Regions from separate parts of the Homo sapiens genome. Here region 2 is linked to region 1. Evidence: fine-mapped QTL for protein levels in blood plasma. Region 1 holds a variant in brackets. A gene starts in the other region. All regions are shown on their reverse strands.

Region 1 (5,367 bases):
TCCCTGGAGGAGGCTCTATTTCCAGAGACCCCAGCCCAGCTGACCAGAGCCCCTTGAAGACCGTGGGAGGTCTCTGGGCTGATCTGTTTCAAGGTTCACATTCAAGGGGAAACTGAGGCCCAGAGTGTCTCCTGGCCATGCACATCGGGAGTCAGCTGCGCTTGTCCAATGCCAGCCCTGATCCAGCCAGGCCAGAGGCTCCGGCCCTGAGTCCCATTTGGCCTCCACCTCACTCTGGGGCCTCCTCATTAACCCTGGCAGGGTTGAGGAAGCAGCTGCTCCGGGGGGTCCTGGACCTGCCCGGGGTCCTCCGCCTGCCCCAGGTGGGAGCCGCAGAAGCCTAGCACCTCCGGCTGGTGTCGGGTGGGCTTCCTGGGGGCTATGTGGTAAACCTCCTTGACGAGCGTCATCTACAGGACAGACAGCGTCATCTGCAGGACACTCCGTCCGCGCTGCAATACCTCTTGCAAACACCTCCTGCCCGTGTGACCTGCACCTCAGATGCTCCCACCTCCTGGCTCCCTGGTCACCAGCGTCCTGAATGCTCCGTGGCGCAGACGCCAGGCAGGAAGCACCAGGTCGGGTGGTGTGGCCTCGTCCGGCCCCATGGGGACCCTAGGGTGGTGTCCAGGTCTGTTGTTTTATTTACGTCACAGTCCCCGTCACGGGCCCTGCACCAGCTCCCCCGCGTTTGTCTTTCTGAAGTTAAATTCTTAGAGGTGGGATTTCTGGGACAAGACGAAAGCCCATCTTCAAAGCTTCTGACCTGTCTCACGCTCAATAGGATGGCGGGGATCAAGAAACACAGGAAGTAGGAAGTGTTGGCAGAGACGTGGGGACCCGGAGCCCTGTGCCCTGCTGGTGGGGGTGACCAGCAACTCCACTCTGGGTCTGTCCCCAGAAGAACTGAAGGCGGGTCCTGAGGGACATTTGCACACCCATGTCCACAGCAGCATCACTGACAAAGGGCAGAAGCTGCCCATGTGTCCCTGGGCGGAGGACTGGGTCAGCATCGTGAGGCTGATCCGTGCGGTGGAATACGGTTCAGCCGTGAAAAGGAGAGGCTGGCCCAGGCTGCTCCATGGGGGAAGCTGGGGACACTGTGCAGAGTGAGGCAGGTGGACACAGAGGACAAAGGCAGGAGGGGCCACTCGTGTGCTGCCCCTGGAGTCATGAAACCCGCAGAGACGGAGTGTGGACGGTGGGCGCCAGGGGCTGGCAGAGGGGATGGTGAGCTGGTGTTGCATGGGGACAGGGTTTCAGCTTGGGAATGTGAGAACGTTCTGGAGATGGAGGGCGGAGACAGCTGCACAGCGACGTGAACGGAGCTGGCCCGTTTTGCCACCTGTCACCCCTCATGGCTGAGGCCCCCAGGTGGCTCCTCAGAGCGCGAGGGCTGTGGTGGAGGCTGGAACCCGCCTTCTCCCTTTGTTCTTTGTGACGGTTTCTTTAACTCAGGGCACACCTCGGGCTTCTGCCTGGCCCTGTACCTGGGTGGGGGCAGGGGGTCTCCCAGATCTCAGCGTAGCTCCCCGCTCACTTCCGGGACTCCAGAGCCTGTGCTCCCCCCACCCACCCCACCGACGTCACTTCCAAAGCTGAAGGTTCCGAGGTCTCTGGGGTCTCCAAGCTCTCTTTCACATCCAGGCCGGTAGACCCGCTGCAGCACGGCACGGTGGGAGGGGTGGGCGGGGATGCCTGGGCCAGTGGGCCTTGAGGATGGTCTGGAGGGTGGGCCAGAGTCCCCACCCCTGGGCTCGTGGCTGTGACTGCACCCAGGCCCCAGCCAGACCCCTCTCCCCGGCCTTCCTGCCTGCTCCAGGCCAGGCTGGGCAAATGGGGGGCTACCGGCCGCTGTGGCGCCTCGTTCCTCGCACTGGCAGGAGGGGTGTGCCTGCTGCCCGGGCCTCTGCTGCAGACGTCCCCCCGACGCACCCGCCCAGGTCTCCCACCTTAGCCAAGCCCTCGTGACATCCCCCCTCCCTGCCCGCGGCTCCAGCTCACAAGCCGATGCCCACCTGGGTGCTGGGGCCAAGCCTAGTGTCTCCCCTGCTGGCCCCCACTGCCTGTCCCCTGCCCTCCCTGACCACGGCCGGTGCCCGCGGCCTTCATGGGGGCTGGCGGCCCACTGGGGAGCAGCCCCCTCACCCCCAGCTCGAGTGGGCCGGGCACCTCTGCATCAGCGAGATAGCGTTTTCTCCATGGCAGAGCTGGGACCCTCAGGCAGCTCCTCTGTCCCCGCTCAGTGCCTGTGGTCCAACCCTCCCCGCCTCCACCCTGGAACAGCCTCGCCCGCCAGTGGCCGCTGGCACACAGTGACACCAAACAAGTGGGGGCCCCGACTTTGCCCTCGTCCCTCCCACTAGGCACCTCCCCGGGCAGAGGGCCCATTGGGAACTGGGCTGGGTCCGGGGCAGGGGTCCGAGGTGGACGTCAAGGCCACAGCTATTGAGACATCCCGGATGCGGCCCTGGGAGTCGGGCCTGTTTGCTCAGCGTGTTTGAAGAGTTCACCTCTTCACAGTTGAAGG[C/A]GCTGAAAACAGAAGATAAAGGAAGGAAAGGGACACAGCCGGTTCCTGCCGGGAAGGGGGGCCAGGCACAGCCTCCTGGAGCGCAGAGGAGCCTCCCACCTCGGACGTGCCAGGAACTTGCCCTGCGGCTCTGACGGAGTCTGAGCCAGGCCCAGCCCTGGGTGGGTCACTGTCCCTCATTCTGGCCAGGGGGCAGTGGAGACAAAGGGGCGGCCTAGACCACACAGAACCCGAGGGGGGTTAATCCTGCCATGAATGGGGACCCGTCCAGGACCCCACAGACCCCTTCAGAGGCCGTCCAGGCACCAGTGATCAGGGCCACCATCTGCTGTCACCAGCTGCCCCAAGCCCAGCCCCTCAGCCCTGGGGGACACCTGGAGGGCTTGGCCACCGCAAAGAGTCGTCACTGGGGCTGGGGTCCCCACGTGGCTCAGCCCTCCCCTCCCCCGACCACAGCGGTGCAGGTTTGAGCCAGGCCCCAGTGTCCATCAGCCACCAGGCACTGAGCCGGGCCCCAGGGTCCATCAGCTCCCAGGCACTGAGCTGGGCCCCAGCTCCACGCTGGACACCTGGGGTGTCAGGCACAGCCCAGGGGGTCACAAAGCAGGGATGGGCTCTTGGTCTGCTCAGAGCCAGGCCCCAGGATGTGTACTCAGAGCCAGGCCCCAGGCTGTGCTGGGGATAGGGAGTGGTAGCTGTGTGGGACCCTCCACCTCGGCAGCCTCCTGCTCCCTGGCACGGGGGCCCCCCAACTCCTGGGGTGGAGGCCTTACCAGGCCAGACGCACGCTCCTGGGGGCTCACCTGCTGATGGGCCGAGGGTCCCATCGTGTGACCAAGCGGGACAGGTCCAGGGCTGGGTGGGCCCAGCAGGAAGGTGTTCCAGGCCTCGGGGACCTGGGCAGGTGACGGGCTGCTTGCTCCTGGGTGTTGGGATGGCCAGGCCCCTGTCCCCTGGCCCAGTACACCTGGGGAGATGTCCAGCAAGGCCCGGGGGTCTCAGAGCCAGTGCCTGGTGTTCAGAAGTAGCAGGTGGGGGCATGTTGAGTCTTCACAGCCCTTAGACCCTGGCCCACTGAGCGACAGGCACAACCAGGGGTACCGAATCACCCGGCAGGAAGTGAAGCTGCAGGATGGCAGGTCACCTTCCACCTGGGCGTCCCGGTGCCCTGGGCTGCCCCTGCTCTGAGGATGCCCTGCACAGGGGCTGCAAGACAAGGAGAACCCCCCGGGGCGGCCCCTGCCCTGTGTGAAGGTCTCAGCCCCCGCCACGACCTGTCTCTGGTTTCTCCTGGTCTTTGCACAGACCCCCTTCTCTGCCTGTCTCCCCACCCGATTCCTTCCTGCCAGTTCCAAGGAGCCCCAACTGGGTCCTGGTGCTGCCATGGGCAGTGGGATTTGACAAAGACTAGAACAGAATCCCCCCTACTTCGAGGCTTCCAGTAGCATGGACTTTGCAGCAGCAGCACCAGCTTCCAAGGAACAAAAGAGGATGGTCCTCTGGGTGGGGTGGGAGGATGACGGTTGAGCTGTAAACCAGGGAACAGCAGGTGCAGAGACGCCGAGGCGGGGATGAACTCGGCGACCTGGAGGGTCCAAATGCACCTGGTGTGGCTGGGGCTGGGGCACAGGGGGCTGAGGGGAGCCAGAAGTGAGGGCAGGGTCAGGTGTGGGGAGGAGCCCGGGGGAGTGGGGCGAATTGATCCGATCATTTAAAGCAGGAAAACTATAGGGCATTTTTTCTAAAACAGTGGTGAAGTGTATGTGACATAACATTGATCATTTTAGTCTTGTTTGTTTGTTTGTTTGTTTTTGTAGAGACGAGGTCTCACTCTGTTGCCCAGGCTGTCATGAACTCCCAGCCTCAAGCGATCCTCCCACCTCAGCCTCCCAAAGTGCTGGGATGAGAGGAGTCAGCCACCACACCGCCCAATTTGCAATTTTTTTTTTTTTTTTTTTGAGATGGAGTCTTGTTCTGTCGCCAGGCTGGAGTGCAGTGGCTCGATCTCAGCTCACTGCAACCTCTGCTCCCTCAGTTCAAGCGAGTCTCCTGCCTCAGCCTCCCAAGTAGCTGGGACTACAGGTGTGCACCACCACGCCCAGCTAATTTTTGTATTTTTAGTAGAGACGGGGTTTCACCATGTTGGCCAGGATGGTCCCAATCTCTTGACCTCGTGATCCGCCTGCCTCAGCCTCCCAAAGTGCTGGGATGACAGGAGTGAGCCACCGCGCCACCCATTTTGCCATTTTTAAATTAATATAGGAGCATTAAGTCCACTTACACTGTTGTCCGACCATCCCCAGAGCTTTCCCATCGCCCTGCACTGAAACTCCGTCCCCATGAAACACCAGCTCCCACTCCCCTCCCCGAGCCCCACGCATCCACCAACCTCAACTCTCTCCGTAAGTTTGGTCCTCTAGAGGACCTCGTATAAATGGACTCATACAATACCCATTCTGATGTGACTGGCTTGTTTCACGGAGCACCATGTCCTCAAGTTTCGTCCGTGTTGTTGCCTATGTCTGGGTCTCCTTCCTTGTTTAAGGCAGAGTCATTTTCCACTGCGTGGATGGGCCCCGCTGGGTTCATCAATTCGCCCGTCGGTGGACCCTCGGGCTGCTTCTGCCTTTTGGTTTTGTGAATGAGGCTGCGATGGACATCGCAATGTGCCCAGGAATCTGAGTCCCTGTTTCCAGTTCCTCAGCTAGGAGTCCCTCTGGCTGGGAGCAGAATGGCTGGGTCACACGGTAAGTCTATGTTTGGCTTTCTGAGCAGCTGCTAGACTGCTCCACAGCGGCTGTGCCGTTTTATGCTCCCGCCAGCCATGCACGGCGGTT
Region 2 (5,310 bases), not on the chromosome of region 1:
GGAGCTGGTATACTCCTTCCCACTCTGGTGGAGACATCAGTGCCTTTCACCATGAGCTCCCATTTCCACTCCCATCAAGGCAGTTGCTTCTGCTCATAATTGGGGTTTCCCAGGGTGAGCTTGGTCGTTTAGTGCCCCTCAGTTTTGTGTCCCCCTCCAAAGCTTTGTGTTCCCTTCAGGGAATCAGGCCATCCACAGACCAGCCAACTGCCTGTGACAACAGAGATCCCCTCCCAGAAAACAAAGACCAAGTACCCATCAGCTTATGCCACAGCCAGCTTTTATTGGGATGCAGATTGAATTGCACAACCAAATAAAAAACAGGCTGACAGAGGGTATAGTGCTGGGGAATGAGATAAACTTTCAGAGACTTCCACATTCCCAGCCCCTCAGAAGGTAGTATTCCTGCTCATATGCCCAATACATTGCTACTACAATCAGCATAATAAAGCCACCACACAAAAGCTATCTATACAGCATAATAAAGCCACCACACAAAAGCTATCTATGACCAAGGAACTCATACAGAGCTGTGACCCACGGAAGGCACCCAAAATTGAAGCCAAATGATCACACACAACATACAGTCACACCTTCAAAGGGGGAAAAAATCCCATTCAAATGAGAGTAAGTTCAAAAGTAAGAAGTAACGGGTTCTCTAGATGAGAAGAAATCAGCATAAGCACTCTGGAAGTACGAAAAACCAGTATTTTGACATGCCCAAAGGATCACACCAGCTCCCTAGCAATGGATCCTAACCAATATAAAAATTTTGAAATAACAAATAAAGAATTTAAGATATGAGTTGTAAGGAAGCTCAATGAGATACAAGAGAAAGTTGAAAACTAACATAAGGAAATCAGAAAAATAATTCAGGATATTAATGAAAAATTTACAAAAGAGATAGAGATTAAAAAACAAAAACCAAATAGAACTTCTAGAAATAAAAATTTATTGAAGGAACTATAAAATATAGTTGAAACTTTTAGCAAAAGACTAGACCAAGCAGAAGAAATAATTTCAGAGCCTGAAGGCCAGTCATTTGAATTAACCTAGTCAGACAGAAATACAGAAAAAATAAATTTTTAAAAATGAACAAAGACTTTGAAAAATATAGAATTACATAAAGTTACCAAATATACAATATATAGACATTCCTGAGGGAGAAGAAAAAAAATTAAAAGCTTGGAAAACCTATTTGAGGGAATAATTCAGGAAAACTTCCCTGGTCTTGCTAGAGAATTAGACATCCAGATAGGAGATGCTCAGAGAACACCTGGAAGATGCTTTACAAGAGAAACCTCATAAAGGCATATCGTCATCAGACTATCCAAAGTCAATGTGAAGGAAAACATCCTAAAAGCAGCAAGAGAGAAATGTCTAATCTATACAGGAAAACCCAACAGACTAACAATGGACTTCTTAGCAGAAACCTTACAAGCCAGAAGAGATTGGGGTCTTATGTTTAATCTACTTAAACAAAAATCCTGCCAGCCAAGAATTTTGTATCCTGCTAAACTAAGCTGCATAAATGAAGGAGAAATAAAGTTTTTCCCATACAACAAATGCAAAGGGAATTTGTCACCACAAGACCAGCACTACAAGAAATGCTTAAAGTTCTAAACATGGAAATGAATGGACAATACTCCTCATCATAAAAGCACATTAAAGTGAAAAACTCACAGATTATATAAAGCAATTACATAATTGAGACTAAAAAGCAACTGGGTAACAATTATCATGACAGGAACAAAACATCACATATCAATATTAACCTTGATAATAAATGGAGTAAATGTTCCACTTAAAAGATACAGATTGGTGCTGGGTATGATGGCTTACACTTGTAATCTCAGAACTTCGGTAGGCTGAGGCAGGAGAATTGCTTGAGACCAGGAGTTTGAGACCAGCGTGGGCAACAGAGTGAGACCCCATCTCTGTAAAAAATTAAAAAGAGAAATTAGCCAGGTGTGATCATGCTCACCTGTAAAGAGGCTGAGGCAGGACAATCACTTGAGCCCAGGAGTTTGAGGCTGCAGTGAGCTATAAATGCATTATGGCACTCTAGCCTGGGTGACAGAGTGAGACTGTCTCAAAAAAAAAAAAAATACATACAGACTAAAAGATTGGATAAAAGTAGCATCAGCTCAGGGGTCCTAACTAGTTACAAGAACAGTGCACAAGACAAACACCAGCTAAGATGGCAGGGAGAACAAGCCTGAACAAGGCAAGGCAGAGGTCTGCTAAGGGAAATCCATCCCACAAAAGACAAGCAAGGCAGGGGCTCTCTGAGGCCTAGAGCAGCATGCAAAAGAGCAACTCTTTCCAGGTGGCAGCTCCCTAGCTGCTGCCCCCACATGCTGCTGCCTCTGCAGCCACTCTACCTGCCCCACCCCTGCCCAGGTATTCCAAGCAGCTCTCAGCTCTTTCCCAATATCTGGGCAGTGCTGTTGAGACAAAGGAAGAGGAGAAGTGGACACAGCAGGTCTTGGCTCTTAAGATCTGCAGTTGTGAGTTCCTTTTGCAATCGCTGTAGGTCATTGTGCAACCTGCTGGTCTCTGGACTCCTGATTTCTAGACATCTATAAAATACAGACACTGATGATGCCACTTAATTCACAGAGCTGCAGTGAGAAAGGTGCAGATGAGTTCAAGGCCTGATAGTGTTCTGCAAACTATAGTGATGGATGTGCATAGTATTGTGAATATCAGTGGCAGGTTTCCAGAACGCAGGTGGGGATAAGAGTGAGTGAGTCAATAAAGAAGAAAATTGCCCCACTTCTTGAAGGGAGTTTTTGGGGCTGGGCAGCTCAGGGTACAGGGCAGGCATAAATAGTGAGTGCCTGCCAAGCAAAGGCTAGTTTGCTTGGAGCTCCTGGGGCCTAACAAAAAGAAACCTGTAAGTGTCTCTGTTCTTGCCTTCTTTTTATTTTCTCCACATCCTATAAATATCCCTCTGCCGACCTGGGCAATTCAACCTATTGGTGTGGAGGGTCTGTGTAGCTGTTCTGGTCTAGGAGGCATGGGCGCAGGAGGTGGGGAGCACAGGAGGTCTTATGGTGCTCTTCTGCCCCTTATTCAGTGGCCTCAGCCCAGGGGAGGATTTGCTTTCTGAGCTGGGGGTGCACAGGGTGGAAGAGTGGGTGTGACACTATCTAGACCTGGGATGCCACAGTGTGGAAGCTTCAGGTGGAAAAATGCAATGCTAATTTATCTCTAGGCTCTTTTCTGCACTGATTTCTTCAGAAAGGACAGTGGAAGAGAGACAAACCCAGGCACTCACAGGCTGGGGTTCTAAACCCATCCTGGTGCCAACAGCCTGTGGAAAAGCAGGGCAAGCCTGTTTTTCTCATAGCTTCAGGTCTTTACTTTAAAAAATATACTTACTGGAGTAGGTCTCTGATTTTCCAATCCATGTTCAGAGGAGATGGCCTTTTCAATGAAATTGTACTCTGAAAGCTTAGCATAAACTGGGCACTGCAGGGGTTGAGGGGGACCACAACTCTGCCCACTCCATCTGCTGCCCCAGCTAAGATGCCTCATCTGAATCCTGGGCCTGAAAACCCGGGTCTGCCCTCTCCAAGTGTCCTTCAAGCCACAGTGGCTGCTGGTGCCTTCTGTGCCATCTTGAGCCTGTAGACAGAATGCCTATTGCCTTTCATTCTTCCCCAGAATCAGACACAGGGCCTGAGGGGTGAGGGAGCTGCGGGGCACAGAACAATGCCCTTGCTCTGGCCTGGGTCTGGCCCTTGCTGCTCATGATTGAGCCTCTGCCAGAACAGGTGTAACAAGGTAGCCGCTGCTGGCAGTGAGCTCACCCAGGTGTTTCTAGAGACTACCAGGATACCCAAGGAAGTGGTGATTTCAAAATTGAAAGAGGCTAGTGAGAAATAGGGGTCATCCACAGCCCAGAATCACCAGCAGTCAAAGAAGAAGGCACTCCTCTGGGCAGGAAGCCCCCCACTTGCCACCACCCCAGTTGGCCTGGTGACCCCTTTCTTTGCACAAGTCCCTCTGGCTTTGTTCCTAGCCTCTGCGAATCTGATCAGCTCTTTTCACTCTCATAACTTTACGGTTTCTCATTGAGAGAAAAGATACCCAAAACAGTTAATGTCCCAGGTCCTGCTCTTATCCTGGTCTCAGTTCCTGACCATCTTAGATAGTAAATGGGTGCCCTGTTGGGTAGTTGCTCTTGCTTACCCACAACACTAGCTTTCTGCCTGACTGAGCCTACCTGGCATGTCCTCTTTCCATATAAGACTTCTTTTTTTTTCTGAGATGGAGTCTCACTCTCTTGCCCAGGCTGGAGTGCAGTGGCACGATCTCGGCTCACTGCACCCTCCACCTCCCGGGTTCAAGAGATTCTCCTGCCTCAGCCTCCCGAGTAGCTGGGATTACAGCACGCACCACCACATCTGGCTAATTTTTTATACTTTTAGTAGAGATGGGGTTTTGCCATGTTGGCCAGGCTGGTCTCGAACTCCTGACTTCAAGTGATCTGCCCGCCTCGGCCTCCCAAAGTGCTGGGGTTACAGGCATGAGCGACCGTGCCCAGACTCCACATACTTCTTTTCCAAACCCTCTCAGGTCTTAGAAGAACTCTAGGTGTCTCAGGATTTCTCCTACTGCTAGTTTAGTGTCTCTGAAAACTTTCACCTGGGTTCCCTCTGGGACTTTTCTCTAGAGACAGCACCTGCTCGAGGAATGGCAAATTGCCAGGCAAATGTGCACCACACTCCCAGCCTGCGCTCAGGAAGGACATTACTAAGCACTCAGGACTCTGGCTGCATTTTCAGACCAGCACTATCAGCACCAGTGCTAGTCCATGCAAGGCAGCAAGAGAGAAGAAACAGGCTTGCCTTGTCTGAGCTAAGCCAGTTGCCTCAGTGGTACAGACAGGGAGATGGTCTAGGGAGTGGGCGGGGGGTGTCCTGCCCAGAGGCACTCAATGAACCCTTCTTGATGTGACAGATGGCCCCAGTGAGGAATGCTACATCCTAGCCACTGTGCCAAACTTAGTGCCCAAGGGAAGGCACAAGAAGGGAAGACATGAGCACCTGGGAATGGGGGATGCTGCTGTCAACCTATGTCAGAGTTCCAGCTGGGTAACTCATGCTCTCCATCCAGACCTTGTGCCCTCCTTGTCCTTAAACTGCTTTTGGATTCCTGCTGCTCTAGGCCCCATAGCAGAGGACAGAAGGAGGGAATGGGGGCTTCTTGTCACCTCTAGAAGCTGAGCCAAGCCCTAAACCATGTCCATGAAGCATAAGCATGTCTTTTCTCTTTCTGTTCACCTCTCCAGGCCATGCT

Direction of the effects. Alleles are on the strand shown, and positions count from the first base shown. The strength of an association depends on the size of the effect and on how common the allele is.
With allele C in place of A in region 1, the plasma level of the protein whose gene starts at base 2,860 in region 2 is lower (weak association).

Evidence for each region. PIP is the chance, under the fine-mapping model, that this variant and not a neighbour inherited with it causes the effect. The UK Biobank Pharma Proteomics Project read protein levels with antibody pairs (Olink). The fine-mapping took linkage between variants from a reference panel, not from the people measured, so its PIPs are less certain.
Region 2: SFTPD starts here. The variant in region 1 is fine-mapped to the plasma level of the SFTPD protein (UK Biobank, PIP above 0.99).

What each region holds. Positions count from the first base shown.
Region 1 is chr11:1,217,155-1,222,521 of GRCh38, reverse strand. No RefSeq gene overlaps it. Among named protein-coding and RNA genes, the nearest start is that of MUC5B, 3.2 kb to the left of the region's middle. The variant C/A (reference allele first, on the strand shown) is at 2,531.
Region 2 is chr10:79,946,655-79,951,964 of GRCh38, reverse strand. It overlaps SFTPD (surfactant protein D), which reads left to right and starts at 2,860. Exons shown (of 8, transcript NM_003019.5): 1 at 2,860-2,899; 2 at 5,303-5,310. The coding sequence starts at 5,306.